Homo sapiens: one gene and its partners. The protein of the gene in region 1 interacts with the protein of each later gene in a biochemical or structural test. Each region holds a gene or a part of one and is shown in the gene's direction. Other genes may lie near its edges.

Region 1 (7,658 bases):
GCAAATTGTAGGGGAGCATTTCTGTTGAGCTGAGCAGGACATTGAAGTATGAGATTTTTTTGTTCTGGGCTTATGACTGCCTGAATGACAATGCAGAAAAAGTCATTTTTCTTCAGTGGCCGGTGTGCTCTTTGTATTCTAGTTTAAAGGAGCCTCTTCCCTTCTTGCTTTTCTACATGTCTTAATCCCTCAGCTCCCTGATAGAAATCCCTTGAAATTATGTGGCATCAAGAATAATTTTATGGCCAGTCTTTGTATTTTCACACCATACTCATGTGAAGAAGGGCAGGGACAAAGATCAGAAAAGTGAAGCCTCATAAGGAGAAACAGACAGGATTGCTCAGAATCTAAACCCCCTTTTCTTGATATCTAGGTCACTGCTTTTTCTACTACCTTGCTCATGAAACGATAAGGATTTTCTTCCCCCAAACATGTCAATTTTGAACATAACGAAACCAGGGTAGCAGCTTTATTTATTTATTGTACCAATCAATTATTAATTGATATTGATTTTTAATTAATAAAAGGCCAAAAGATGAATAGCCTGCTGCCTGGACAGGTGTGCTTGTGCCCATTTTCCAGATGTAGAAACAAAGGCAGAGAGCCCGTGATTTGTCCAGAGCAACAGAACAAGTCCTTGGTGTCTCCGTGTCACATGTGGTGGCTGAGGCTGTCAGGTCAGAGAGACCTGGGTCAGGTCGAGGTCTGCCACGGCCTGCCTGTGTGCCCGCAAGCAAATCACTTCACTTCTCTAATCATCAGGTGCCTCATCTGTGAATGGGATCAGAAATACTTCATGGGGCTGTTTTGAGTAGAAAATGAGAGGAGATATGTAAAGTGCTGAGCCCAGTGCCCAGCACAGAACATAGAGGCTGTAACTGTTGTTGTTGTTGTTGTTGTTCTTGTTGGTGGTGTTTGGTGGTGGTAGTAATAGTAGTAGTAGTAGTAGTAGTAATAGTAGCAGTAGTAGTTGCCAATTACTGCATTGTGACTAAACCTGTTTTCTGTAAGATGATGTCAAGAAGGGTCAGACTGCCTGACAGGCCAGAGTCATTTTCTCAGTAGGACCTTTAGGGGGACAGTCCTTCAGTCTAAAAGCTTCAGCTCTCGGGTTCTCCCTGTCTTACACTATATACTGCCCTCACCATACTCCAAATGAGGCTACAAAGGTCCAGGCTCTGCCCAGTTGACAATCCTAACTCTGAGCTGGAGACACAGCTAGGCCTGTCTAGGGGCTTCCTGTGTCCCACACGTGATCAAGTAGGTTCCTGCATTAATCCTGGAGGTGAGGAAAGGGAAAATACTGTATGGCATGTAGATCAGCAAGGACTTGTTCTTTGGGGGAACAGGAGGGAACATTTGGTTCTGTGGGATGAGGTTCCCACTACCACATGGCATCCCCAGCTCACCACCCTTTCCCCCTCGTAAAGATGTCTTTGTCAGCTTCTCTCTGAGACTCTGTCTGGGGGCCCACGATCTGCAGTCAAGGACTTGCAGATTCCCCTTTAAATCTCACAAGAAGCCTGGAATGGTGACGTGTGTTTCTTTAGTCCCAGCTACTTGAGAGGCTGAGGCGGGAGGATCACTTGAGCCCAGGAGGTCAAGTAGCTATGGGCAACATAGCGAGACCCCATCTCTTGAAAGAAAAACGTTTGTTTTAATCTCACAAGGGAAAAAAAAAGTTTCATGTTATATTTTAAAGTCTTTTTTCACCTTAATACAAAACAAAAATATAGGCTCTCACCAGGCTACTGTTCCCTTTAAATAACATTTTGTTTTCTCTTGGGGAAGCTGACTTGATGGCCGAAGAGTCATTTCTAAAGTGAAGCTAGTTTTTAGAAAAAATAGATCACCGGATGTCAAGCCTCATGTGGAGCTCGGTTCAGATGAAAATGAAACCAGCAGGCCTGGCGTGGCAGCTCTGCACTTGACTTCAGGCTGGAGGTGAGAGGCAGAGTGTGCCTGGACCTTGCTCCATAACTGGTTGGCCCCACAGAGTGCATTTGATAGGTGCCTTAGTCATTTTCCAAGCAGCTTTGCTTAGGTGAGCAGAGCACTTTCTCTGGAAGGTGAGTCACCCATGCAGGGGTGTAGGTGACAGGCGATTTATTCCCCAGCACAGTTGCAGAGAAAGTCCTGAGCAGACCTTCGTGAGGAGCCCTCTGCCACAAATCAGCCTCATCCCAGCCCCAGGGCTATGGAGGCAGGGGGCAGGAGGTAAACAGGAGGCTTCTGGGGCCAGTGGGCTGACAGCGGAGGGGGGATCGTGGACGGGGCACAGAGCCCAGATCAGCAGTGTCACTGACTCCTAAGTCCAGCCACCCTGAGGGTGGAAAATGGCCTGCTTCCAGTGACAGTCAGCAAAGAAGCAGGAGGGGAGCTTTGGCCCTGGGGAGCTGGGAAATCCCTTGGCAGAGAGCAGAGAGACAAGCCCTATTTTGGTGTGAAAAACCTTTTAGGAACGCTTTTCCACCTGCCTCCTTTTCAGCCACCTGAGTTGGAGTCTCTGCAGAGCTCCAGCGATTGTAAAGGCTAGATTAAACCCTGGATTTCAGAAAGCTTTAGGAATCCCAAGCCTGCCACCATCTCAGTTGTCTACACTTCTAGGACCAGGATTTGTACCAAGAAAGAAGCAGCAGGGGGTACTCCTGAGCCATCCCTCCCTCCCAGGTTCTGGTTACTACAGCTTCTCCTGACGCTCTTTCTGCTAAAGCCACTATCAGGTGTCCATTAACGCAGAGATTTTCTTCAGACACTGTTCTGGACTAGTGCAGTTGGTGTTGAACTTGACCGATTATGGTCAGGGACATCTATAAGCAATGTCCAGGACCAACTACAAGGAGGGCTTGACTTTAATGAAGCTGCAGCTCTTGCAAATAATCTCGTTCCCTGTCTCTGGCAGACTACCAACCCAGCCCCTGTACCCATACCCCATCAGTCTGGACCAACCAGTAGTCACCTCCTGCTGGCATGGCTAAATAACCTTAACCTCACTGTCCAGAAAGAGCTGTTAGGATTATAGCCTGGACATGATCATTCACATTTTTTGCAGTGAGAAAATGCAGAAGAGAAAATGGTGGCCCAAGAAAGCCAAGTGGGTTGCCCAAGGCCACACAGCTAGTTAATGGCAGAGCCTGAACTATAAAACCCAGACTCTTCACTGTACTCTGCTGCCAGGGAACGAAGGAACTAATCCTGAAGCAGGATTTTTTTTTTTAAACTAGCTTCTCCTTTTATTCCCCTACCACAACCCTATCACTCTCAGCCTTTCTGCAAGCTCTGCCAGGCCTGGGAAGGGTGGAGCCACAGCAGCTGCTGCCCTGGGTCTAAGAAAAAGTAAACAGAAAGCTATTTGTTGGACGCTGTCTTATACCATGAGGTTCATGTAATCAAAAGGAGGTCAAGGTTGATAAGAAAATACAATTACCAGGAAGTCTCAAAGGTTGCCCACACCTTTAGGGCACTTTCCTACCTAGCCAAGCAGTATCTCACCTAGAGTGGGTATTTAGTAACTTTCAATGATTGATTACAGGGGTCCAAACCCACAGTGCACGAAGCTCTTCTGCATCTTTCTTCTGTGCAGGAGGTGCATGCATACTCTGGGTGTTATCCTAGCTGATCTGCCTGGCTCCTCTCAGTGAGAGGCTCTTCCTTGTGGGTGAAGCATGATGTCATGATGTCATATCTGGATGGTGGCCCCTGTAAGTGCAAAGAATTATTGTAGCCAAAATCTACCACCCACCTTCTACTGACATTAAAGTTTCCTTTTACTGGGCCAGAATTAAAAGGTAGGTGTTTCTGGTCCATACTAGGGATAGCCAGGAGGGTTGGGAGGAAAAGGAGGCTTAGCCAGCCTCCAATGAGGATGTGGTTGCCAGTTAAGATTATAAATGGAGGCTGGGCACGGTGGCTCGTGCCTGTAATCCCAGTGCTTTGGGAGGCTGAGGCGGGCGGATCACAAGGTCAAGAGATTGAGACCATCCTGGCCAACATGGTGAAACCCCATCTCTACTAAAAATACAAAAAAGTTAGCTGGGCATGGTGGCACATGCCTGTAATCCCAGCTACTCGGGAGGCTGGGGTAGGAGAATCACTTGAACCTGGGAGGTGGAGGTTGCAGTGAGCCAAGATCCACCATTGCACTCCAGCCTGGGCGACAAGAGCGAAACTCCGTCTCAAAAAAAAAAAAAAAAAAAAAAAAGATGGACTCCTTTGGCCAAGGGAGTTGATTGGACCCACCAGACTCCTTGAGTCCTGCCCAACAGTCTCCACTGGCAGATGCTGTGCCTGGAGAGGCAGGAATAGCTTTGTATAGATCAATGTGAAGGACAGAGTCCTGCACCACCTCCCTCTAGCATGTATTAGATACTTGCAAATATATGCAAATCCGAGCCCAGATGGGTGTTGTCCAGTTCAGAAGGGTTATCTTCTCAAGCAATTAGAAGTAATTGGGTCTCTAGGTCAGCATTTAGGAAAGGGGATGGCAGGAGAGGCTCCACAGCCATCTTTCAGGACACCTGCTTGCTGGGGTGCAGTTAGAATACAGCCACCAAGTTGTGACTCCCTCCCTTCCAGCCTGCCAGGTGATTGGACAGTGTGGACACGTGTCCCTGTCCAGCCAGGCTCTCAGAGCCTGTGGCACTCATTTATTCCTCAGAAGTGTGTCTGTCCTTTCACTCAGGAACATTTGCCAAGTGTGTCAAATGGGCCATGTCTGCTAGGTGCTAGAAAACCAAACACAATTGAGGCACCGCCCTGGAGGACCTCACCAAGACAGGGGTAAGCTGGGCACGAAGGCAGACATCTCACAGGTCAACCCCGGTGCTGGTCAGGAGCCATGACTATAGGAGCTGGAGGGAGCGAGGAGGCCACCATGCGCAGCCCAGTGGCCCTCCTTTTCCAGCCTGAGCCAGCACTGTCAGGCGTAGAGCGTCTCGGATTCTGCAGGTGCCTGGGTGGGAACACCTTGGTATTTCTCTCACCCTGGGGTCTTGTACCACTTGTCAGCTTGGAGCGGGAGCTTGGTAACAGTTGGGCAACTTCAGCACTCTGGGGGAAAGAAGTGCATTTTCAGAAGCGTAGGGACAGTCAGGAGAAATTTGCTCAAATGTTGCTTGGGCACAGTGGCTCATGCCTGTAATCCCAATGACTTGGGAGGCTAAGGCAGGAGGATTGCCTTTTAGGCCAAGAACTGGAGACCAGCCTGGACAACATAGTGAGATCCACCTCCAAAAAAAAAATTTTTTTAAACTAGCTGGACATTGCCAGGCGCAGTGGCTCACACCTGTAATCCCAGCACTTCGGGAGGCCAAGACAGGCAGACCACTTGAGGCCAGGAGGTCAAGACCAGCCTGGCCAACATGGTGAGACCCGTCTCTACTAAAAATACAAAAATTAGCCAGGTGTGTTGGTGGGCACTTGTAATCCCAGCTACTCGGGAGGCTGAGGCACAAGAATCACTTGAACCTGGGAGGCAGAGGTTGCAATGAGCCATGATCGCACCACTGCACCCCAGCCTGGGCGACAGAGCAAGACTCTGTCAAAAAAAAAAAAAAAAGATTAGCTGGGCATGGTGGTGCTTACCTGTAGTCCAGCTACTTCAGAGGCTGAGGTGGGATGATCACTTGAGCTCAGGAGTTCGAGGCTGTAGTAAGCTATGGTTGTACCACTGCATTCCAGCCTGGGTGACAGAACAAGTCCTCTTCTCAAAAAAGAAAATATAGTTCAAAGTAGAATCAGACAGTGAGTAGCCAGCTAATAAACACATAACTGACCACCTCCCACCCCTCCAAGTGAGAATTGGGAGGGCAGTGACCACACTGGCACATCCCATAGGCTTGGTGCCACTAGAGAGTTGTAGGCAGGTAGATCAAGGCAGTGCTTCTAGGTAACTGGGTTCAGCATTCCAAGAAGGCCTTTCAAGGGTTTCAACAGAGAAGGCTCTTGGTCATCCTCATATTCCTGCTGGCCAGCACGGTGCCTGAAACATGGTAGCCACTGATTAAATATTTGCTGTTGAGTGAAAGTACAAGACTTGAATCCAAACTCCTCCCGCTAAGCCCTGCTGGCCTCGGGGAGGACGAGAGAGCCGTGGGCTGTTTCATGATTTACCCTCTTTTACCAAAGAATCGTGTGAGATCCTCTGAGAATATTCCTCATCATGCCCCATGTCCCAAGCCCTTTTTTACCTTCCCAAGGGAGGACAAGAATATGACCCCTCATTATAAAGGGACCCCTCTGCCACTCATGTCCTCAAGCTGGTTACTTGGTCCAGCTTGTCAAAGAGCATGTGGGGCAGCATCTGAAATGAGGCCAGGGTCAAGGTTGCCCCGCCACAGGGCGGAGCTGGACCTGTGCCTCCTTCCATGCATTGGAAGCCTTCTGTGGAAGCTGAGTTCTTTGGGTTTCTTGTTTATTCTGAAGTTCCTCAAACTAGTTCCTCAATTTCAGAACCAGTCACCAGTGACTACAATGAACTTGAATTCTCCTATACAGGGAGCCTGAGCCTGTCTTTCTTCATCTTTTCTGAACACAGGTAGACGCTGCTTGAAGCCACTCCCACCTCTGAAAACCAGATTTCTAAACCCAGAAAGGAGCGGTGGGTGGTTGTATTTCAGCGAGATTGACCGTAGCCTAGGGAACTTCTTGCTCAGAATCCACCCCAAAAGGTTAAATAAGGAGAGTTGTTTTTCACAACCAAAATGCTGCTTGTAACGATGATCTCAAAGCTTGGCAAGATCACAAAGTACGTTTTGAGTCATCAAAGAAACTGGCTGTGTTTCACATGATTTTAGTGTCAAGGGCAATTATGGCCATCTAATCTTTGGAAATTGGTCATGTTAAGTGGCATACAGGGCAGCCCCCACTTAATCAGAATATTCAGTTACACAAAATACCCTAAGTTGCTGATTTCGATGACACTTGAAATTTTTTTAATTAATTAATTAATTAATTTTTTTTTTTAATTTTTTGAGACAGAGTCTCACTCTGTTGCCTAGGTTGGAGTGCAGTGGCACAATCTCGGCTCACTGCAACCTCCACCTCCCGGGTTCAAGCGATTCTTGTGCCTCAGCCTCCCGAGTAGCTGGGATTACAGGCACCCACCACCACACCCAGCTAATTTTTGTATTTCTAGTGGAGGCAGCGTTTTGCCATGTTGGCCAGGCTGGTCTCGATCTCACAACCTCAGGCAGTCCGCCCGCCTGGGCCTCCCAATGTGCTAGGATTACAGGTGTGAGCCACCACTCCCGGCCTGAAAAATTTTTTATACAATATACATTAAACATTCCTTGTTGCTTATTGTATAAAATTAAGTACACGTGTGACAGGTTTTTATCTCAATACTACCTTGCCCGACATGTTCTCCTGCATATTGGGTCTTTGTGGATCCATGATGCCCCCTGTGGCGTCTTTTCTATTTGCTGTTGGCTCTCCTTGTGCAAAGGATTTGAAGGTTGAATTGAAAATACCATTGTAATACTTCTCTTTTAAAGCTTATAAAATGCCCTGTATCAGGGCCTGGGGGCAAAAGTACTGATGAAATTTATGAAGATAGCAAATGATGCTCGAGTCTTTGTTATAAAAAGAATGGTAAATAGGTTCAAGAAGCCTGCAGCCAGGCTTTGTAAAGTGAATGGCAAATTTGCATTTGTCATAGA
Region 2 (7,658 bases), on another chromosome or scaffold:
TGTGCCCGGCTCTCATGGGTCATTCTTATGCAGCCATTTGGAGGTCAGCAATCTCTGATTTGGGGGTATTTTAGAATTCAGGAGAGAGGTGTGAACACCTGAATAATTGATTGGAAATGTTTATACTGTTTCTGATAAACCCATTTTCATTTTCAATCACCGTCTACTGGCTGCCGTCTGTGTGTATACTGGGAGACGCACACTGTAGCCCAACATTGGCTGGAAGTGTCTCCTCACACACTATGCTCCTCTCCACAGTGTCCTGGCTGAGCGACTGGAGAAGTGGCTGCAACTGATGCTGATGTGGCACCCCCGACAGAGGGGCACGGATCCCACGTATGGGCCCAATGGCTGCTTCAAGGCCCTGGATGACATCTTAAACTTAAAGGTGAGTGTGGAGCCAAGTTAGCCCTGAGGCAAAAGCTGGGGTCCCCAGTGGAACATGCAGTTCTTAGGACAGAGCAGGGGATGGGGCCAGCTGACCTAGTGAGGAAATTTAGGCTCCTGCATCAGTCTTTCTGCATAAGTAAAGAAAGGACAGTTGTGCTAATTGACATTGGCTATGAGGTCATAGCCACAGACAGGATTATGAAAGATGCAAATATGCGAAACATGGCACATGACCTCCCTCCCTCAAGCTAGGCCCTTGCTTTGTGTGGTTGGGAAATGTTGGGAGTAGCAGAGAGAGGACCTAGGCAAATAGATGGGCATTTCCTTGAAGAAATCGGTTTTCCAGTAACATCTGGGTTGTGTTGCAGCTGGTTCATATCTTGAACATGGTCACGGGCACCATCCACACCTACCCTGTGACAGAGGATGAGAGTCTGCAGAGCTTGAAGGCCAGAATCCAACAGGACACGGGCATCCCAGAGGAGGACCAGGAGCTGCTGCAGGAAGCGGGCCTGGCGTTGATCCCCGATAAGCCTGCCACTCAGTGTATTTCAGACGGCAAGGTGAGCCCTGGCTTCGTACACACCATCCTGTTTACCTTGGCTGTGCCTCCTGGGAAACTCAACACACTTTCAGATTTCAATTCTGCTTTGTCATGTAGTCTGTTAATCACACAGTGCGGATACCTGGCTGGTTTTTAAGTTGGAGTATGGTGTCCTCTGTGTGGCCTGATAGGAAACACAAATCTCCTTGCTGGACTTGTTACTTCCAAACCCTCCAAGACCGGTCTCTTGCCTTTATTGCAAAAAATGATGCTATAACACTCGAATCTCTCAAGTTGCCTGCTTGGCCCTCTTCCAAGTGTACTAAAAAAAAAAAAAAAAAGGATGCTGCACTTTCTTGAGTCAACTGAAAGTATTTATGATGGCCTCTGTGTACAGAACTGGGTTAGGCACCTGTGTTAACTATAGCTGTGTAAGACATGACCTCTGCTCAAAAAGACCTTCTCAGCTGACTTGTGGAGCTAAAGTTATCATATGAGAAATAATCATTGCATAGGGAAGTATATAGTGAATTTCTGAACTTCCCAGGGAAGACAGAGAGTAAAATAGAATGTAATACGTTTGTAAATAAAGAGTGTGTTCAGACAGTAAGTGTGGCTGGAAACGTTAAACACTTCATGGATGCTTCCTACTTGCTGGCTGAAGATGATGCTCTTGCTGAACAGTGGGGAAAGCTGTGGAACTTCTTCATTATCAGTTAGAAAAGAGAGGGTTGGATCCACAAGATTCATTTTGTCCTTGTCCCTTTGCAGTTAAATGAGGGCCACACATTGGACATGGATCTTGTTTTTCTCTTTGACAACAGTAAAATCACCTATGAGACTCAGATCTCCCCACGGCCCCAACCTGAAAGTGTCAGCTGTATCCGTAAGAATTTGTTATGTTTTGTTTTTCTAAATAATCCGTTATAATATGTGGGACAAGGCAGGGAAGGGAGACTGGACTAAGGAAGGGGGAGCCACGTAAAGGAAATTAATATCGCCAGTCCTCAGGGCAGCCTTCCTTATTTAGGACATGCAAGGAGTAGCCAGGCAAGAGAGAGTACAGGAAACCATTAGTTAATTTCAACCTCCTAGGACGGGCGTGGTGGCTCACACCTGTAATCCCAGCACTTTGGGAGGCTGAGGCAGGAGGATCACTTGAGCCCAGGAGTTCAAGACCAGCCTGGGTAATATAGTAAGCTCGCAAGTCTACTAAAAATTTAGAAATTAGCCAGATGTGGTGGTGCATGCCTGTAGTCCAGCTATTCAGGAGGCTGAGGCAGAAGGATCACTTGAGCCTGAGAGTTCAAGGCTGCAGTGAGTCATGATCACCCCCACTGCATGCCAGCCTGGGTGACAAGAGCGAGACCTTGTCTCAAAAAAAAAAAAAAAATTCTGTTGAAAATATATGGCCCTATATACATATGTGTCCAATGGTTCGTAAAGTGTTCCTTCAAATCAACAGCTACTTATTGACCACTGGTACATGCTGTTGGTACAAATACATGTATGTGACAGTAACCAGGCATAACACCCTCCAAAGTTACATGATCCTATAGTAGGTACAAAACGTGAAAGTGCCAGTAGTGTCGAAGGCAGGATATGGTTAATTGTAGGAGAGTTATTGTGGTTATTCTTTGACAATTGCTTGTGTCTCTGTCTCCAGTTCAAGAGCCCAAGAGGAATCTCGCCTTCTTCCAGCTGAGGAAGGTGTGGGGCCAGGTCTGGCACAGCATCCAGACCCTGAAGGAAGATTGCAACCGGCTGCAGCAGGGACAGCGAGCCGCCATGTAGCGTGCCAGGCTTTTTTTTTAAACTTAATTTATTTAAAATTCCTTGGTGGCTTTGGCCACAGGGAGGTGGTTGAGGCAGGGACCCAGAAGCAACCGTTATGAGCAACAAAAGGAAGACACTGGTTTGGATGGACGGGAAGCGGTTGGGTGGGCTGGACTGACGGAGGCCCCTTTAGACCTGGCGAGGTGAGTGTGGTTGGCACAGGGTGAGGAGTGTGGAACTGAAGCTGGGCTGGCCAAGCTGTGGCTGGTTTGGGAACCCAGAGGAGCTCACTACCATGTGGATTAGCAAAACTCCCCTGACCGTGCTGCTGGGGACTTACGGACTCTTTCCTCATTGTGACTCGTTTGCCAACATTATTGGCCTTTTGTGTCTTCCTTTGCCTGATGTCAAGTTTAGTGCAGAACCTCAGGCATTGCTGAGGGCTAGGAAATTGTCCTTGGGTTATAAGTGGCTGCTATAATAATAGTGATGATGATAATAATTATAGCAGGGACCTCCCTTGACATTTGAGGGGGTTTTGTTATTGTACAGGAAATGGAATTTGGATCCCAGAGATGCTCCAAGACTGTTCCTTGTGGTCCCTGCAGGATGAATCTCCTCCGAAACAACAGCTGCCTCTCCAAAATGAAGAATTCCATGGCTTCCATGTCTCAGCAGCTCAAGGCCAAGTTGGATTTCTTCAAAACCAGCATCCAGATTGACCTGGAGAAGTACAGCGAGCAAACCGAGTTTGGGATCAGTGAGTGTGCACTTTGCAATGAGTTTAAAGACACCATTTTTTTTTCTTTTTCTCTTTCTAAGGTTTCTTTTGTCCTATTATAATTGAGTTGCTTATTTCTGTTTCAGTTTTGTGGTGTTTTTATTTTGTTTTGTTTTGTTTTTCCTTCTCAATTTTTTTTCAGCATCAGATAAACTGCTGCTGGCCTGGAGGGAAATGGAGCAGGCTGTGGAGCTCTGTGGGCGGGTAGGAGACTCATTTTGGGTTTCGGAACTTACCAAGGGGGTGAGATTTTGTGCTCCCACTTTTCACTTTCTCATCAAACACTGGGTCGATCTCTGTCAAAAATCAGGTGTTCCTCACCATGCTTTGAGCTTAACTGGACCAGCTGAAAAGAGGCCAAGAGAGTAGCCAGTGAAGGGAGCCCCTCTGTGGCCAGATGCAAGAGCTGCATGAATGGACAGAGATGGTCCAGGTTTAAATAAGAAGCAAGGGTTAGGTTCCCTTGGGGAAAAGCCAAGACCATTTCCTGTTAGGAAGGGCATTGGATGGATGATCAACACTCCCTCTTGTCGAAGGTTTTTGACTAATTTTGTTGGGATGCTAAATCCATAGGAAATAAAAGGTCTAGGCAGAAAGTCTCAGGGCAGCGTAAATCAGATGTCACCAAAAAAAGTTAATTATGAAGGCAAAGGAAATACATGTGACTTAATGAACCTCACACAAACTGAAGGTTGAAGTCAGGCTCCGGGGCTTTTTCCTGGACTTATCCTCTGTTTTCCCCTGTGTACTTGGGCAAGGATCTTCACCTGTGTCTTAGTATCGATTTTTATGAATCAGTACTGATGGAGTATATGTGTGTTTAATGGTGAATATTAACCATAGAAGGGCTGAGTGCTCCTCCCCATCTTGGGACTCATAATCTGTGAAATAAAACAGTCTGGGCCTCCCTGCCCGGGTAGCATCAGGATAGACAGATGAAGAGAAGAGAAAGTAATGTGTCTTGGGCATCTTCTGTATGCCAGGCACCATGCCAGAGGCTTTAAGTACTTCATCTTACTTGACTCCTCAGATGGCCCTGTTAGAAGCCTATTTTATGCAAAAGGAAACTGTAGCTGGGGGTAAGTAACTTGCCAAGGGGTCACACAGCTAGAAAGCGGTGGACCCTAGATGCAGGCGCAGCCATTCAGACCCCACAGTCCACATTCCTTTGAGCCAGTCCATTGAGGGTCCTCAGGGAATGTGGCGGGTCCCCTGGTCTCGCTCCCCCGCAGATCTTGCATCTCAGCATGCGCCTACCACATCAGTTGACATTAGCACAGCTTTTCCATTAGGAGAACGAAGTGAAACTCCTGGTAGAACGGATGATGGCTCTGCAGACCGACATTGTGGACTTACAGAGGAGCCCCATGGGCCGGAAGCAGGGGGGAACGCTGGACGACCTGTGAGTACTGGCTGGGGGGCCCCTCTGTGCCCAGCACACACAGACAGCCCTGGAGCTTCGGTGTGTGTGTCAAGGGCACCCTCAGTGGCTGTGCGGGACCATTCTCTAGAGCATGCTTCCCTGTGGGGTCACTTCCAGCAAATCATCACTGAGCTTCAGTTTCCAAATCTGTTCAGTGACAAGAAAAACAGTCTTAAGTCACGAAGTTGTAAGGATGAATTCAGATAATGCATTTGAGACGCAGGCCATAATCTGTAAAGGCTGTAAAATGCAAGCAGCCTCTACCCCTGTAGCAGACTCCCCTGATTTGTTCCACCCACCCTGACTCAGGCATAGCTCAGAGCAGAAAGTAAAACAGAGAAGGAAGAACCTGATGAGGCTTAGGAGTTTGGACCTGGAAACTATTCGTTTGAGTCTTTGTCAGGTATTTGGCATTGGCTCCATGAGGGGCGGAGGGGTCTAGGCAGATCACTCCTACCTGAAGGAGATCACATGTGCTCCTGGCGTACAGATGGAGGGAACCAGGCAGGCCGCTTGAGGGCTGTGTCACCGTGAGCTCAGCAGTGTTCCCTGATTCTCTCACTAGGATTCTTAGGACAGGAGCTCCAAATGTCAGAACTTTGATTCTGTATTTTCTCTAATTAACCCTTTATTCTCCTCTAGTTCTTTTATTTGTATTTGTATTATTTTTTTAAGAGACAGGGTCTTGCCCTGTTGCCAATGCTGGAGTGCAGTGGCACAATCATAGCTCACTGCAGCCTCGACCTCCCAGGCTTATGCAGTCCTCCCATCTCAGCCTCCCAAGTAACCGGGACTACAGGCGCATGCCACCATGCTCAGCTAATTTAAAAAAAAAATGTTTTTGGCTGGGCACAGTGGATCACATCTGTAATCCCAGCACCTTGGGATGCCAAGGCAAGAAGATTGCTTGTGAGCCCAGAAGTTCGAGACCAGCCTGGGCAACATGGTGAAACTCTACCTCTACCAAAAAAATGTAAAAATTAGCCATATTTGACCTCAAGTCTAGACAGAACTTCTTTGTATATTTTAGAGAGGAGCAAGCAAGGGAGCTGTACAGGAGACTAAGGGAAAAACCTCGAGGTAAGTGGGGTTCTGTGTCTGCCTTGGGCTTCTCCTTATCTCATTTATGGGGCATCACTACTCTCTGCTGGCTTCCTTGAGGAACTATGCTACCCTCCCTCTCTCCAGACCAGCGAACTGAGGGTGACAGTCAGGAAATGGTACGGCTGCTGCTTCAGGCAATTCAGAGCTTCGAGAAGAAAGTGCGAGTGATCTATACGCAGCTCAGGTATGAGCCCCGACCTTCCTGCTCTGGAGGAAGGACTGGGAGATGCAGGTATGAGGTCACCTTCCTCCCTCCTCTCTGATTCGCTGGACCTCATGAAGAGAGTTTCTGCAGCTGCTGACTGGATGCACAGCTGCCACAGGTTCTGCTTTCTCCAGCCCAAATGCCATTAGTTTGCCATGTTTATTCTTTGCAGTAAAACTGTGGTTTGCAAGCAGAAGGCGCTGGAACTGTTGCCCAAGGTGGAAGAGGTGGTGAGCTTAATGAATGAGGATGAGAAGACTGTTGTCCGGCTGCAGGAGAAGCGGCAGAAGGAGCTCTGGAATCTCCTGAAGATTGCTTGTGTGAGTGAGTGCTGTGGTCCCGGGCCCTTGGCCTAGCAGCCTCCTGTGCCTTTCCACCTCTGTGCACTGCCGCCATCCCACACGGGACACCACAGAGCCACCAGCAGCCCACTCAGCTGCTGCTCGGGCTTCACGTCGCTGTTCTTTGACTTGGTGTAAGCGGGGAGGTCAGAGGAAGGGCCTGTGCTAATTGTTTTCATTCATCTGTGTATTACTTTCGTGTGGCTACTGTAAAGATTAGCACAAACTGAGGGGCTAAAACAACAGAAATTTGGGCTAGGCATGGTGACTCATGCCTGTAACGCCAGCAATTTGGGGAGGCTGAGGTGGGAGGATTGCTTGAGCCCAGGAGTTCAAGACTGCAGTGAGCTGTGATCATGCCACTGCACTCCAACCTGGGCAGCAGAGCTGTCTCTACTAAAAACAAAAACAAACGTGTTATCTGAGCTCTAGAGCCCAGGAGTTGAAAGTCCCGTGTCAGCAGGGCTGAGCTCCCTCTGAGGGCTCTTGGGGAGGGACTGTCCTTGCTTCTTCCAGCTCCTGGTGGTTCCAGGCGTTCTTTGGTGTGTGACTCCAGTCTCTGTCTCTGTCTTCATGGGACCCCTGTGTCCCTTATCTGGGTGACTCTTACAAGAACACTTGTCATTGGATTTGAGTCCCACCCAAGTAGTCCAGGGTGATGTCATCTCAGGTTCTCTAAAGACGCTTTCTCCAAGTACGGTCACACTCACAGGCTCCAGGAGTTGGGATGTGGGCATATCCTTCTTAGGGCCACCAATTCAGCCCACCGTCATGCACGGCAGTGCAACTTGGTTGACCATCGTCTGCGTCTGCACTGCCCTCAGTGCAGTAAGCCACGCTTTCTGTGCACACCGTCTTAACGTAGCTGTGAGTCCATGGGATGCCACATGGTGGGGAAATGGGAAACAAAACAGCCAAGAACTGAGACGGGCAGGCCTGGCCGTGTTGTGGGAGCCAGAGCTGTTGGGACTGCAAGCCCCATTGTGAAAGGCTGCAGAGAAGGTGACATGGATGAAAGAGTGATTTAGGTGTCAGTTTCCCTTAAGAGCAAAGGGAAGGAGAGAGGGAGATGGTTGCTCATGGTGGAAGCAGGA
Region 3 (7,658 bases), on another chromosome or scaffold:
TGTTTTTGTTTTGTTTTTGAGATGGAGTTTCACTCTTGTCGCCCAGGCTGGAGTGCAATGGCACAATCTTGGCTCACTGCAACCCCCACCTCCCGGGTACAAGCGATTCTCCTGTCTCAGTCTCCCGAGTAGCTGGGATTATAGGTGCACACCACCACGCCCAGCTAATTTTTGCATTTTTAGTAGAGACAGGGTTTCACCGTGTTGGCCAGGCTGCTCTTGAACTCCTGACCTCAAGGGATCTGCCCGCCTTGGCTTCCCAAAGTGCTGGGATTACAGGCGTGAGCCATCACACCTGGCTCTTGTGTGTATTCTTAAACCTGGATTGTTGGTCCAGAATATGAAATTTATTATTCAGAGGTAGGAAAGACTCAGAGGAGATGGGACTTGATTTAGAACTTGAAAGAAATAATTTGGATTAGCAGAGAGAAAAAGAGTATTCCAGGTTGCAGAAAAGCAAGCAAAAAAGACAGATACAGGAATAATCTCAAGCTCTGTGAGTGTAGCGATTGTGTCATTTTTATTTCCCCCCTTGTATGTGGAGCGGGGCTTAAGTATTGCAGGTGCTCTGTAAATGTATATTGAACTGAATTAAATGGAAACAAGTGGTTCTTTTAGCATCAGTTTCTAGCATCTATGGGAATCCTGTTTGTGTGGACAGGAAATCACAAAGAATGATAAATCAACTCTAAAATCCTCAAAAGTAACTAACCTCCCTTGCCCTTTTTCTCATCTTCTTGTATATAGTACAGGACAGCAAAATACAGCTTCCAATTATACAGCTGCGTAAAGTGTGGGCTGAAGCAGTGCACTATGTGTCTGGACTAAAAGAAGACTATAGCAGGCTCTTTCAGGGACAAAGGGCAGCAATGTAAGTGGATTCTGTTGTTTATAAGCACAATGCAATGTGCATCATATACTCAAGAATTAATCTTGCCGGTTTTCACTAATCAATATTGCATGTAATAGTAACATACTGGGCCAATTTGAAGTGTAATGTTCTGATAAACTTGTAGAATTCTTACTAATGGACTGAGACCATTCTATTGTAATGGCTTGAGGGTAATAATTCCCATACGGTCCTAGTATAAAAAGATTGTTTATCACAAAATATTATAGGCAGGAAGTCTTTAGAGATCAGATTCTAGAGCTCAGTTATTTCTCATAGATTGATAATAGAAACTTAGGCTTTGGCCTTGTGGCAGTTTATGTTTTTACATTATTGTTCAATGTTTCTGAATGCTGATAATATCTTTTTTCTTTTTCTTTTTTTTCTTGCTGTGGTTTAGGTTAAGTCTTCTTAGATATAATGCTAACTTAACAAAAATGAAGAACACTTTGATCTCAGCATCACAACAACTGAAAGCTAAATTGGAGTTTTTTCACAAAAGCATTCAGCTTGACTTGGAGAGATACAGCGAGCAGATGACGTATGGGATATGTAAGTGTCTGTGTAATGTATTTGAAAGGAGCATCTGGTTTCTTGAAGCCATCTGTTATTTTGCCTTCTTAACTCAGCCAGTTGTTTTACTTACCTTCACATTAGAACAAGAGACAGGACAACTTAAATTAACATAAACCATGTTTGTTTTGAATGTTACCTCTTTTTTTAAATTTGCTTAGTTGAGCAATTTAGCTTCACAATTGGGCTAAAATTATTTAGCTCTAAAAAAATACAGGTGCGATTTAATAATCTTGAATTTCAAACCTGATTTTAAAATAAATACAAAATCTGGACTTCTTAGCCAGTGCTGTGGACTGAATGTATCCCCCCCAAAATACATATGTTGAAATTCTGACCCTGAAGGTGAAGGTGTTGGTAGGTGGAGCCTTTGGGAAGTGATTAGGTCATGAGAGTAGAGCCTTCCTGTTTGGGATTAATGCTCTTACAAAAGAGACCTGAATGAGATCCCTCATCCCTTCTGCATGTGAGGACAGAGCAAGAAGATGGTCATCTAGGAACCAGAAAGCAGGCCCTCAAATCTGCCTTGTTCTTGGACTTCCCAGCCTCCAGAACTATAAGAAATAAATTTCTGTTGTTTTTATGGCACTTAGTCTATGGTATTTTGTTATAGTAGTCCAAATGGACTAAGACAACCAGGGGAGTCTTAAACTGCTTACTTTTCTGTAAATAATGACACAAATATTCTAAGGCTATGTTTTTTTCAAACCATCTACTGTGGAGTCCTACTATTTTTTAGTGTACACAGTCTCCAAATTTTCCATATTTGACTCCAAGCTTATCTCCTTCAGATGTACTAAGGAAGTGTAAAAAAACAGAGTTAAAATATGAGTAAATTGAAGGAGTCATACTACCAGCATTTCTGTTTTCTTTTATAAAACAAATCCTTTTTAGGAAACAAATACTTGTTTCCTAAAAACATATACTTGTCCTGAGCAAACTCTGTGTATCTCAGAGTAAACAATCAATAGTGTCCAGTTGGGTGAATGAATTTACTCTCCAGAACTGGTTTTATTAATATTATTGATATTTTATTTCTATTTATATATTATTGATATTTTATTTCTATTTGTATATTATTGACATTCTGGTGAGTGATAAAACATTATAATTATTTCATTAAAATATCTTAGACTTGTCAAAGGCTTATTATACAATTGTTAAAGAAAAATGAGGTAGATCTATATGTGCTTTTATTAAAAGATCACCTAAGTCTTTAGTTGACAGTTTTAAATTGTGGGAAAAAATAAAGAGTATACAGATGTTTTCACTTGTGAGGGAGCAGGCTATGTGTCTATGTAACAGATAATCATAGTAAGGTCCCTTGAGGTGGATGGTAGAGGGGTAGAAGAGAGAGTCTTTTCTGTTTATATCCTTTTATAGTATTTAATTTTTAAAAATCATATTCAAGTATTAAATTTCTTTTCTGGCCAGGTGGTGACTCACGCCTGTAATCCCAACACTTTGGGAGGCCAAAGCAGGTGGATCCCTTGAGCTCAGGAATTCAAGACTAACCTGGGCAACATGGGGTAGAACGCCATCTCTACAAAAAATGTAAAAATTAGCCGGGCATGGTGGTGCACACCTCAGCTATTCAGGAGGCTAAGGTGGGAGGATCGCTTGAGCCCTGGAGATAGAGGTTGCGGTGAGCTGAGATCATGCCACTGCACTCCAGCCTGGGTGACAGAGTGAGACTCTACCTCAAAAAAAAATTTTTTTTGTTGTTTTTTCCTTTATCCACCCATCTGCACACTGGTATAAATATATATATTTTTAAGAAAAAAGTCATCTGTATTCATTTCCTAAGGGTTCCATAACAAAATCCCATAAACTGAGTGGCTTAAGCAATGGAAACTTACTGTCTCACAGCCCTGGAGGCTAAAAGTCCAAAATTGAGGTGTTGGCAGGGCCATGTTTTCTCTGAAATCTGTAGAGAAGAATCTTTCCTTGTTTCTCTCTAGCTTCTTATGGTCTGCTAGCCATCATTGGCATTCCTTGGCTTACAGCTGCAGCACCTCAATCTGTCTCCATTGTCACAGAGCATTCTCCCCTGTGTATCTGTATCCTGTGTCTCTTCTAAGTACACTGGTCGTACTGGACTAAGGGCCCAGACCATTCCAGTATGAGTATTAATTTATCTGATTACTTCTGTAATGACCTTATTTCCAAATAGGTCACATTCTGAGGTATTAGGGGTTAGGAATTCCACATATCTTTTGGGGGACCACAATTCAACTCATAACACATCTTTGATGTTGATATGGCAAGGAGGCAGGCAGCCAGTAATTAAAGATATGGCTATTTCTGAGATAACCAATTTAGACTTTTCTTTTAGCTTCAGAAAAAATGCTAAAAGCATGGAAAGAAATGGAAGAAAAGGCCATCCACTATGCTGAGGTAAAATCATTGACGTCATTCTGTATACTTATTAATTCTTGATGTCTCCATTAGAAACTATCTTTGGTTTTGATATATAAAGAGCATTTTTCATGTCATTCCTGAAATTCAGACAAAATTCTAGTAGATGCTTTGTATATAAAGAGGGATGTATCATAGTGATTAAAAACAAGGGCTTTGGGAAAATTACCTAGTGCCTCACTGAGCTTCAGTTTCCTTTATTTATTTATTTTTTGAAACAGGGTCTCACTCTGTTGCCCAGGTTGGAGTGTAGTGGCATGATCAAAGCTCACTGCAGCCTCGACTTCCCAGGCTCAAGCAGTCCTCCCATCTTAGCCTCCTGTGTAGCTGGGACAAGAGGTGCACCACCATGCCTGGCTAACTTTTACATTTTTTGTAGAGACGGGGTCTCACTATGTTGTCCAGGCTTGTATCAAACTCCTGGGCTTAAGCAATCCTCCCACCTCAGCCTCCCATAGAGCTGGGATTATAGGCATGAGCCACCACATCCAGCTAGTTTCCATATTATAGGGACAATTTCTTTTCTAGTAGGGTTATGAAGATTAAATGGGAGTCAGTAATGGTAGTTGTCACTATTATTTTTGTGACTGGTTTAGATAGGATGGCTGCACATCCTGGTTTACCTGGGACTGTCCCAGTTTATACTTAATGTCTTGCCATAATTATCAGTAGTAGTCCCTTTCACTCTCAAAATTATGCCGGTTTGGACAATAAATTATATGGTGTCCCTAGGTATAGCTCATTCTCTAGGTGGCAGATTTTTTCCCCTTATCCTGTACATTTGTCCACGGTCCTAAGTTATTACACTCCTTAATGTCAGTACTTACCCTGAGGATGTGGGTGGGGATACCCATGGTGTCCTGGGGTGGGAAATCCAAGTTCTTTATCTTTTTGTGTCCCTATTCAAGGTAGTGGGGACCAGGGGGCAGTCAAAATCATAGAGCCAAGATACAAGTAATACCAATGGTTTTGGTGGTCCTTTTTCTTTCTTGTTAGTTGATACCTGTTGTAGCTTTTTGCTTCTCCGGAGGTAAAAGCAAATACTAGTAGTTTACTGTTGTCAGGAGAGAAAAGAGAGAAGACTAAGACTAAGTATGTTCTTATGTGAAAGATTAAGTGTCAGAATCTGAAGAATAGAAAGGCTTTAACAAAATCAGTGTTTCGTATTATATTATTTAGTTCTCTAATGAAGCAGCAAGTCATTCTGTATCCTTAAGATCTGAATTTTGTTTCCTATGATGTAGTGGTAAGCCTTTCATTTCCTTTGTATTTTCATCATATTTTAGGTTGGTGTCATTGGATACCTGGAGGATCAGATTATGTCTTTGCATGCTGAAATCATGGAGCTACAGAAGAGCCCCTATGGAAGACGTCAGGGAGACTTGATGGAATCTCTGTAAGGATGCACTTGTGTTGTTGGTCTTGACATCTGTAATATTTTGTATTCTTTCTGCTTACATCTGGCAAATTAAACCTCTAGTGGTTCTTTTCTATAGTTTTCCTTTCCCCAAATATATTGGCATTATATTTAAAATGGAAGCTTTTTCTCAGTCACAGGAAACTTCGGAAATAATTCTTTGGGTTGGCCTTTTTTGGTTTTTAATAAAAGCATTTATTTCATAGGAGTGTTAAGAATTTTCCAAGTATAACTAAGTTACAAACTATTTCCCTACTCATTATACCTCTGGTCCAAGGTATTGACTCTTAAATGCCCTAAAACTTGAAATTTTTTCTGAATTAAAGTTCTGGATTAAAAACTTCAGATATTTTCTCGAATTATAGGTCATAATTTTTGTCTTTTTAAGTGTCTGTGGTGCAGAGATGTCCCCATGATAGATCAGAATAGATATGAACTATATTAAACTTTGCATTTTAAGAACTTGTATAGTTCTTATTACTCAATACAATGCTCTGTGAAATACTTGTTGGCAATATGAACTTGCTTTAAAATGGGTTCATTATTCAAATAAAATATTGTTTCAAGTTGTAGATTATTGAAGTCATTAAATTACCTTCACTTATCAGAGCGTGTTTTCTCTTTTATAGGGAACAGCGTGCCATTGATCTATATAAGCAGTTAAAACACAGACCTTCAGGTAAGACACTTCTACCACAGTGCTTGAAGGCATTTTAGGTAACTATCACTAGCCTAACAAATGTGGGGGATCTAATATTTTTAAGTTAAAAATTTTCTTAAAGCTGCAGAATAAATTCCAGTTTTGGTATTGCCATTGAGACATGGTATAATAAGCTTTAAGATTGTGAGAATTTAGGAGATGATAAAGAGAAAGTAACAGAGAACGTGAGGTAGAAAAATTTTAGAAGGGGACGTGAAAAGAAAGAATGGAAGACAGAAAAAAGGAACTCAGAGAGGAAAAAGCAGCAAGAAAATGTTTAGAAAGATGGAAAAAATAAGTGTTGCTTAAGATTAGAGAGGTTGGGCCAGTTGTGGTGGCTCATGCCTGTAATCCCAGCACTTTGGGAGGCCAAGGTGGGTGGATCACCTGAGGTCAGGAGTTCAAAACCAGCTTGGCCAACATGGTGAAACCCCATCTCTACTAAAAATAGAAAAGTTAGCTGGGCATGTTGGCATGTGCCTGTAATCCCAGCTACTTGGGAGGATGAGGCAGGAGAATCGCTTGAACCTGGGAAGAGGAGGTTGCAGTGAGCCAAGATCACACCACTGCACTCCAGCCTGGGTGACAGAGCGAGATTCTGTCTCAAAACAAAACAAAAAAATATTATAGAGGTTGGAAAGAATTTGAGGCAGTGGGTTCAGGTATGGAATGGTTAGAGGGAAGGCCTGTGCTGTTCTAGGCCAAAGCAGATTGCTTTGAAAATAATGCCTTCATCTGCACTGGTCACTGATGACTTGTTTTGTTGGCAAAATAATTCCAGTTGAACATCTGCTAAATACTGAGCAAGGTCTGCTGGAAAGAGTACTGGATGGGGAATCAGAGGCTTGAATTCTAGATTGAGTAATTTACTGACCGTTACCTCAGGCAAATCTGCGTTTCCCATTTCCTTCTTCTGCAAAATGGGGTTGAAACCTAGCTTTCCTACTCAGTGAGTATATTGTGACAGTGTATTTAAGAGGATGTTTGTGAAAATGCTTTGAAAACTATAAACTATTATGTACTTGCAAGATATTATCATTTAGTTAAAAATTTGTTTTGAAGGGTAACAGAAGAAATAAAGTCTGTGCCCTAATGTGCATTATACTTAAATGCATGTTAAAAAAAGATATACTTTTACACTTTAAAATTTGTAGACACATAGCAACACATGCAAATTAATATACATGTGAAATTGTATTTCATATACTATTTTCACATTTAAAAAATAACATTATCTCCTCTTATACTGCTTTTATTTTACTGAAATGTATTCAGTTTAGTCTGACCAGCAGTTCTCAAAATGTGGCATATGGACCTGTGAGAATCCTTGAAACTTTGTCAGAGAGTCTGTGAGGTTAGAACCATTTTCATAATAAGATGTTATTTGCATTTTTCACCATGTTGACATTTTCATTGATGGTGCAACATAAAATGGCTTTCACCTTAGTATGAATCAAGGCACTAGCGCCAAACTATGCTAGTAGCCGTTATATTTTTTACCACCATGCAGTCACAGTTTTTAAAAAATGACAGTTTCACTTACAAATGTCCTTGATAAAGCAGTAAAAATATTATTTTATTTAAATCTCAACGCTTGAGTATGGGTTTTTAATATTTTGTGTGATGAAATGGGAAGTACTCATAAAGTGTTTCTTCTATAC

What was found. Proteins that work in one complex are often made in the same cells at the same time.
Region 2: of the proteins of MAP3K14 (region 1) and IKBKB, one has a biochemical effect on the other in vitro, tested with the Homo sapiens proteins (3 studies listed by BioGRID and IntAct, with this or other methods).
Region 3: of the proteins of MAP3K14 (region 1) and CHUK, one has a biochemical effect on the other in vitro, tested with the Homo sapiens proteins (5 studies listed by BioGRID and IntAct, with this or other methods).

Annotation. Positions count from the first base shown.
Region 1 is NC_000017.11:45,306,571-45,314,228, reverse strand, and holds part of MAP3K14 (mitogen-activated protein kinase kinase kinase 14), read left to right. Parts: intron 1-1,791; exon of another isoform or gene 1,792-1,944; intron 1,945-7,658.
Region 2 is NC_000008.11:42,315,952-42,323,609, forward strand, and holds part of IKBKB (inhibitor of nuclear factor kappa-B kinase subunit beta), read left to right. Parts: intron 1-258; coding exon 259-388; intron 389-758; coding exon 759-953; intron 954-1,705; coding exon 1,706-1,820; intron 1,821-2,600; coding exon 2,601-2,724; intron 2,725-3,318; coding exon 3,319-3,470; intron 3,471-3,633; coding exon 3,634-3,695; intron 3,696-4,783; coding exon 4,784-4,893; intron 4,894-5,944; coding exon 5,945-5,994; intron 5,995-6,102; coding exon 6,103-6,202; intron 6,203-6,395; coding exon 6,396-6,543; intron 6,544-7,658.
Region 3 is NC_000010.11:100,198,289-100,205,946, reverse strand, and holds part of CHUK (inhibitor of nuclear factor kappa-B kinase subunit alpha), read left to right. Parts: intron 1-747; coding exon 748-871; intron 872-1,289; coding exon 1,290-1,441; intron 1,442-3,797; coding exon 3,798-3,859; intron 3,860-5,166; coding exon 5,167-5,276; intron 5,277-5,926; coding exon 5,927-5,976; intron 5,977-6,778; coding exon of another isoform or gene 6,779-6,846; exon of another isoform or gene 6,847-7,658.